Linked DNA regions of Homo sapiens: region 2 is linked to region 1. The links come from fine-mapping of genetic effects on gene expression. A gene starts in region 1. The other region holds a variant in brackets. All regions are shown on one strand. Distances are from middle to middle. Region 1 holds the start of ASB2 (ankyrin repeat and SOCS box containing 2). Region 2 overlaps ASB2 (ankyrin repeat and SOCS box containing 2).

The links. PIP is the estimated chance that this variant, and not a neighbour inherited with it, causes the effect.
Region 2: its variant is fine-mapped to the expression of ASB2 in cerebellar hemisphere (GTEx, PIP above 0.99). The same link has a PIP of 0.9 or more in cerebellum.

Annotation. Positions count from the first base shown.
Region 1 is chr14:93,974,367-93,978,366 of GRCh38, reverse strand. ASB2 (ankyrin repeat and SOCS box containing 2) reads left to right here and starts at 1,797. Exons shown (of 10, transcript NM_001202429.2): 1 at 1,797-1,933. It overlaps LOC107984663 (a long non-coding RNA gene), which reads left to right. Exons shown (of 4, transcript XR_001750861.2): 4 at 1-942. RefSeq lists an enhancer at 2,745-3,316.
Region 2 is chr14:93,954,114-93,958,113 of GRCh38, reverse strand. It overlaps ASB2 (ankyrin repeat and SOCS box containing 2), which reads left to right. Exons shown (of 10, transcript NM_001202429.2): 3 at 1,244-1,348; 4 at 3,631-3,797. Among named protein-coding and RNA genes, the nearest start is that of MIR4506, 7.8 kb to the right of the region's middle. RefSeq lists enhancers at 1,717-2,421, 2,422-3,128, 3,239-4,000. The variant T/A (reference allele first, on the strand shown) is at 1,837.

The sequences.
Region 1 (4,000 bases):
GTGGCAGCTGCAGGTGAAGGATCCACCTCCGAGAGGGTGTCTTCACCCCTCTGCCTGGTGCTAGATGCTCTGGGGGCCCTGGGTGTTGCTTGCTTGGACTTCCTCACAACATGGCAGCTACAAAGCATCTCATGACCTAGCCTTGGAAGTCTCAGGACATCATTTCCACTGCATTCTATTGTTAAGTCCATCACTAGGCCACCCCATATTCAAGGGGAGGGAAGGAATAGACACATCTTGGATGGAGTTTGGGGTGTGTATGTGTGTGTGTGTGTGTGCATGTGTGCATGCCCATGAGGCAGAGGGCAACCTAGGAGGGGCCTGGCCTGGCCACAGCCCACCTTCCAGGTCAGATTGGGAAGGGGCAGGTGGTGGGCAGGAAGTAGAGGAACCTGTGTTTTGCCTCCAGCAAGGAGCCCAGGAAAGCAGCCCGGCCTCGGGGAGCCGTCCCACAGAGACGTCTCTCGGGGAACATCCTACTGGGTAGCAGAGTCTCCAAAAAGTAAAAAGAATCTGACAGCCCCTTCTCTGCCCTTCTCCTACACTCCCTCCATAGCACATGGGTCTGGAAGGGGCTGAACTTGAGCTAACTTTGAGGGCCACCCAGCCACAGTGGCCTGGGAAGACTGACCCAGCTGGGGTGATGAGCAATTTGGCAGGTACCAGGGAAGCTGGGGGACTGCCTGGGGACCACTGGTGTCCTTCCCATCTTTAGCACCAGTCAGACCTCCAGAACCTTGACTCAACCCCGTGGCACCTTGTATACTGAGATGTATTTCCTTGTGGAATATTCGAAGTGCGTGTAAAGGCATCCTGAGGTTTCCTGAGTTTGAATCAGTGAGAAATCATGCTGTGGCCATCATAAATCCACATCCTCCAAGGGGAATGGGCCACTGAAACAAAAATGATTCTCCCCTTAGAGGAACAGACCAAGTCATGTTTCTGGACCCCTAACTCTGAGGCATGAGATGTGAACACACGGGTGGGAGAGTAGGTGCCTGGCCATGTCCTGTCACATCCCGGATGCTCAGTGCATGTGGCTGTGTATGTGTTGTCTTTGACATTTGACCTATTCCAGAAATGGGACGTTCTTCCCTAGACCAGGAGGAAGGGCTCTCTTCTGTTGTATATCTCTGCCCAGGGCTTGCCCGCATGCCTCTGTGTTTGTTTGTTGGCTCATTTGTACCCTGGCCCTTTGTATCCCCAGCCCCACCCCACAGTATCCAGCAGCCAGACACCTGCTATCCCCAAATGCTGCCACAAGCTCAGCACCAAACCTTGATTTCTCCAAAGCCCTTTTACGTCAACTCCTTCATCTCCTCTCTCCCCTTCTTCCCTTCTCTTTCACTCCATCCTCTTCCTTCCTGCTGTCTTGCCTTCCCTCCTTTGTTGCCTTTACTTCTCCTCTTCCCCTTTCTTCCTCCTCCCTTGCTCCTCACTCTTTGTCTCCCAACTATGCGTCTCCTCGTCCTCGTTCCCTGCCTCTGTCTCTGACCCACTGCATCTCTCTCCTGTCTGGCTCTCCCCTGGGTAGTTCCAGAAACATACCCATATATGGCCTCCATGTCAAGGATCACAAATGATGACATCACGTGAGGGCCAAAGCTCCGGGATCCTCTCTGAAGTGAGAGTCTGTATTCGATGCACCCGGAGGAACGGAAGGCAGGATTGCAGCTTCCTCAGTGCAACCTCCAAACAGGAAATCTGAGATGTATAACATCTTATAGTTTGGCTTGTCAACGTTGGTCATGCGGTGGCCCCAAAATAAACTCCCTGCTTCAAAGGACAGCGTTTCAGAACTGCCTGGCAGAGCAGCCAGAAGCTTGGGGCCAGGGCAGAAGGAAAACTCGGGGAGCATGTTCTGAATTAAGACACTTTCAAGAAAATCCTTTGTATTACCCCTGAATTGTACCCTTGTTTCAGAGCCTAACAGGTAATGCATGCTTTCAACTTTCTTATACAGATCTTGCAAAAGATTCTTTGGCTGGTGGGGATTTTCGGCTGCAGTACTTACTGGAAACCGCTTGTAGTCAAACTGTGATGTTGCTTTTCCCTCTCTCTCGTATTTTCTTGAGTTATACAGCACGCTGGTGACTTTCGTTTTGGATGCAATGAACAGAGACTCAGCAATTTGCATGTACTTACCCATTCTTCTGGAGGACTCTGGCTCAGAATATCACTCTGCTGTGCACTTCTAAAAATGGAAATGCAAAAGGACTTATCAATGATGCTATTGTTGGGTCTGTAGGTCTTGGGCGGTATCTGTGTCAGACAAGTGACTTTCAGAAATGCTTTCAGGCCAGGCGCACAGATAGAGGTTTTCATGAGTGGGAGTTAATTTAATGTAGCTGTTGCAGAGTGCCTAGGCATGCACGGTATTGTGGGAGACCATAGCAGCCAAGGTGCCATGTGCTCTGCTTTCAACTGTTTGGGGATTAGGAGAGGAAATGGAGGAATGTTATTTATGTGAGATCCAACAAAGCTGTGGAATGCAGGGATGCAAGAATACCATGCATGTGTGTGCACACGCATATGCATGACACATTTAAGGAGGCCATGGCCTTTGAAAGGATGGGTGGGATGCCTCAGGGTGGAAACAGAGACCTCCAGGTGGAGGAGCAGCTTGGGCAAAGGCAGGGAAGTCAAGGGACCTGGGGTGATGATGGAAAGTGAAATGTGGCTCTGGCAAAGGGTTCTGCATGTGAAAAATGGGGGTGAGGCTAGAAGGGGAGGCCAGAGGGAGAGGCACATCCTTCCAGGCCAAGCAAGAAGTTGGAACACTTTCTGAGAGTTTTTGAGCAGAGGACGGCATGCACATAGCCACATGCATTGAGCATCTGGGATATGAAGGGACACAGCCAGGCACCTACACTCCCACCCGTGTGTTCACATCTCAGGCCCCAGAGGTGGAGGCCCAGAAACATGACTTGGTTTCTGGTGCCTCTAGGTGGAGAATCATTTTCATTTCAGTGGCCCATTCCCCTTGGAGGATGTGAGATTTGGCTTCGGTGGCTCTTCGGGAAGCCAGGGGTATGCACTGGAATGAGGAGGCAAGGAGGCTGGTGACTCCTAGGGAGGGCAGGTAAATGAGGAAGGCCTGAAGCAGGGCAGAAGCTGAGCCCCTGCACAGGACAGGAATGCTCTTCTGAAGATAAGCTTGTTTCGTGAGGCGAGGGCTTGAGGGGGCTCAGAGGGACGCAGGCAGAGCCAGCTGGGGCCAGCACCCCCGCCACAGCCCTGACCTCTGCCTGGGCAGAAGCACCATGAGGCAGACAGTGGCAGATGCTCGAGGCACTTCCAAAACAGTTGGACGGGTCCTGACAGCTGGTGGCAGGCCCATGTGCTGCACAGCGTCCCCAAGAAGCTGGCAGCAGCTCCGCTGGGTGCCATGCTGGTTTGCATCATCTGTTCTTGCACAAACAGGCCGGGTCATGAGTGCCTTGTGGTGGCGGGGGTGGGGGACACTGTCTAACCCACGCACGGTGACCTCACAGTGAACAACAACACAGGCCATACCAGCAAGCCTTTGTTGAGCACTGGCCCAAGCTTGTGTGCAGATTTCTCTCACTGACTTCGGTCAAGGCTACCATGAGTTACAGGTGATCGTTACTCCCATTTTCAGGTCTGGAAACAGGTTATGAGAGCTTAAAAGTCTTGCTTAAGGCTGGACGGCTGCAAGTGTTGGAGTCAGGAATCTGACCTTTTGGTCTGCAAGGTCCACATTCAAAGCCACAGCGTCCTGTGGCCTCTCAAGGTACTGTGGCAGTGGTAAACAGGACCATCGTGCACCCAGGGGAAATGTCTCTGGCACACTCAAGGCATCATAAGGTGCCCGTATATTGTGGACAGGCTAGATCCAAAGAGCCTTCCCAAAGGAGGCACAAAAATATCTCTGGGCCTGCCCAGTGTCCTTCCATTTCTGCGCTGCAGAGGATCAGGCTGCCCACAGGAGCCAGCTGTCACAGGAGTGGCTTGTGTCTGTGGTTCTCTTTCCTTAGCA
Region 2 (4,000 bases), 20 kb after region 1:
CATGAAGCAGAGGGGTGAGCAGGTTCCCCTCCTCCTGCCACCCTTGCTCCTCTCTACCAGGCTCTGGCCTTGCTGGGGTGTACCCACAGAATCTGTAGGCTCTGGCCTAGCCAGAAAGAGTGTGGGTGCTTCTCAGGGTCATAATTACCCCATGCCCCACAGGGTGTGAGTCACTGGTAGCAGAGTCCTCCCCAATCCCCCCCAGAAGAGTGTGGTGAAAGGCCCGGGCCACTGGGGTGTCGAGAGTGCCAGGCCTGACCTACTGGGGGTGGTGTCAGTAGGGGCCATATACCCTGTTCTCACGACAACCCCAGGCCAACTCAGATTTGTGGAGCGGCCATCCCACCTCCTTCCGGCTCTTCCACCCTCACAGGAGCCTGGTGGGTCGGGAAAACTGAGGCCTAGAGAGGCAAAATGATGATAAAATGAAGAGTGAGTACATGTGGAACACCCTCTGTGCCTCACACTCCACTAAGCTCCTCACACCATTCACTTACTCAGGCCTCACCGGCCCTCGAGCACAGGCTGTTTTCATGCCACCTTGCAGGAGCGGGGACTAAGGCACAGAAAAGGTCAACCTGTCTCACGTCACACAGCCAAGGAGTGCCAGAGCCCAGATGTGAACCTGTGTCTGTCTGACTGCAGCCCTGGTTCCGACGCCCTTCCTCATGCATCCTATAATAACACTATAGAGGTTACTATAGTGTCTGCTCCTACCCCTGGGACAAGATCCCCTAATGAGCTGGCAGGTGGGCGTGGGGGGCACAGGTACAGCTTGGCTTCTCAGCTTTGCTCCCCTATCCTCTGCTTTGCCATGAATCTCTCATCCAGCCCCGCAGGGATCTGCCTGGCCAGCAGTGAGCCTGAGCCCCTTTCATCCTGGGACCTGCCGACCACGGCTCACATCCTCCTGGGTGAAGAATGTCACCTTGCTTCCTATCTGCCTCTTTCGTGGTTGGCTGGGGAGGGGGACCGGGGGGTGGGGTGAGGTTAACCTCATTGTTGTCTTATATGGTCATTTAAATCTCCCAGGGCTTCCTCCAAGGGCCAAAAATAATCCGGAGACACAGCAGCTGTGTCCAGCACACAGAGGACCCGGCCATCTGCTTTGGTTCAGAGCCCTGTGTCTGTCAGTCAGTCTCTCCCTGGCTCTCCCTCCATCCTCATTCCTGCCTGAAGCCATGACCCGCTTCTCCTATGCAGAGTACTTTTCCCTCTTTCACTCCTGCTCTGCACCCTCCAGGTCCACTGCACCTCCTGAGAGTTCGCCGGCCCGGGCCCCAATGGGCTTGTTCCAAGGGGTCATGCAGAAATACAGCAGCAGCTTGTTCAAGACCTCCCAGCTGGCGTAAGTGACTCCTGTCTGGCCCCAGGACCATCCAAGTTCACTCCGCTAACTGGGATGGCAGGGAGGGTGGGAAGCAGGCCCACAGCCCCCAGGAGGGCAGAGGGCACTATGGAGGCACCTGCCAGGCACGCTCCTTCTAGGGGTGCCCCCCTGGGGCCCCACTGCTCCTGCTGAGATGGGCTTGGTGGCCACAGACTTCAGTCCTCAAGGAACTTCCAGCCAGGCATGCTGGTGATCCCCCCCTCAGATGCCCCCAGCATGGGACCTGAGTGCTGGAGGAGCCCCATGGGGCTCTGAAACTGGGGACCCAGCACGAGGGAAATTGGGGAGATGGCCTTAGAACCCCAGAGGCCCAGGAGAGCTTGGAGTTGAACTTGATGAGTTGGCTGCACCCTTCTGTTTGTCCCAGTCTCACTTTCCCCCATGCCATCGCTGTGGGTACATCCAAAATGCCCACACCCACAGCCTTTGTTTTGTTTATTTGCCCT[T/A]ATTTGTGAAGTGCCAGGTGCTAAAATCCAGAAATAATCTAAGCTGCAGGGGCTCTGTTTGCCTGGCACCAGGGGGCAGGGCTAATGCGCTCCTTAGAAAATAATTCTGCCTCCCTCCCCTCTCTGTACCCCTGGAATAGTGACCCCGGAAGCAGCCAAAAGCAAAAGAGGGACCCTATCACTGGAACTGCATTTCCTCACTCAGTTACGTTGTAGAGAAGGGAGGAGGCAATTGGCCAATATTTTCTTTCTCCTTCCCAGCCTTTTTCAAATCCTGTCGCCCTCCACTTCCTTGGTGTGGTGGGTGTGTGGAGTGGTTGACAATCTGGAAAAGGGAGACCCAGAGCTGGTCTCAGCTACTGCCACCTCCTGCATGACTGCCTGAGAGTCGCTGTCCCCTCTGAGTCTCCCTTCTCTGCAGGACACGGCTGGAGAGGGCAACGTGACCTCTAGGGTCCCGTCCAGCTTACTACTCTGATGGCCTGACACCCCCAGAACCCTCCCCCACTCATAGGGCGGGGACTTTGCCTGAGGTCATGGAGAAGCTGTGAATATGTGGGCTGAGGGCTCCAGGGTCCTTGCATCACAGCTGGAGAGACCCAAGCTGGGCGGCAGGTCCTGAAAGTGTTCTCACGACACTGCACCACGCCCTGCTCGCCAAGGCCACGAGAAAAGCCAGCCCTCCTCCCTTCCACTTCAGCTGGGGTCCCTTTGGAGACACTCCAGGAAAAGGGGGGCACATACCCCCACTGGGCTTTTCCTGATGCTGACAGGGGCTGCTCTGGCTGTTCCTAAGTGGAACTCGTCAAGGTGGCAGTGACGGTGCTGATGGGGACCTCAGGACTTATCTGATCAGTTTCCCATCGTCCTTGCTGGGTCTGTTGCTTCACCGGCATCTGTGCTCTGACACCATTAATAACCACAGAGTCTGAGAGTCAGGAGGAAGTGCTGCTCACGCTGGAGGAAGTGGCTGGGAGAGTGCAGGGGCTGGTGGCAGAGACCGCCCAGAGCCCATCCTAGCCCAACATGGCGTGGGTGTCCTGGGAATGAGGCCTGCCTCCAGCCTCACCTTCTCCATCTGGGAAATGGGACTATTGATGCAGAAGCCTCCCCAAAAGTGGATCTGAGAGGCATAGACATCGTGGTTCTCACGGACTCTCCAAGGATGAGGTAGGGAGCTCAGTGAATGAATGAAGGAAGGAAGGAAGCAATGAATGAACAAAGGGACTTTAACAAGCCAAGCAAGGAACGGCTTCACTTTAGCCCTCAAATCTTTTTGACATTCAGAAGTTTTAAACTGTGAAGGCTTCAAATTTATTAATCCTTCCAGTATATATTTTTTTTCTGCAGCTGGATGTACTGGGAGTAGGAATAAGCGACAGGGCAAGGAGAGGAGTTGGAAGACCCCAGAGATATGCTCAGGGTTAAGAGGGGGCCCCCGAGATGGGCGTGCCTGGTAAATGCTAGAGTGCTATACTCAGGGAAAGCATTTAATTATCACAAGTGCCTCACATGTGGGTGGTTAGCCACCCTCTAGGAGGCTGGCATTGTGTGCCTGAATCCTCTTGGTAGAATTGGTTTTGGTATAACATTCCCGGCAGCCATGGAAAGCCACAGAGATGGAGGGATCCCCCAGTCCTCTTGCAGCCACTGGGCTGCAGGGGGCTGAGTGCTCATCCTGGAACCAGCAGGGACGAGGACCGAGTGACTCCACTGCCAGCACTCCTGAGAGAGAGGCCCCCTGGCCTGGCCTTGGCCTGACCTTGAGGACTGACCCACTCCTTCCTCTCACAGGCCTGCGGACCCCTTGATAAAGGCCATCAAGGATGGCGATGAAGAGGCCTTGAAGACCATGATCAAGGAAGGGAAGAATCTCGCAGAGCCCAACAAGGAGGGCTGGCTGCCGCTGCACGAGGCCGCATACTATGGCCAGGTGGGCTGCCTGAAAGTCCTGCAGCGAGGTGAGGGCTGGGCTCTGACGGTGGCAAGAGGTGGGAAAGGGACTAGGGGAAGGGCTGCCGCTCCTGGGGCTTCATGTTCTTTGCCCACAATCATCTTGGGAGAAGGGCAGGCAAGGCTGTCACTTTCATTTGTCAGTTAGTCATGGAGTTACGAGAGGGGAAATGAGTTGTCCCCACCCCCTGCTGCCACCTCTCCAGGCCTC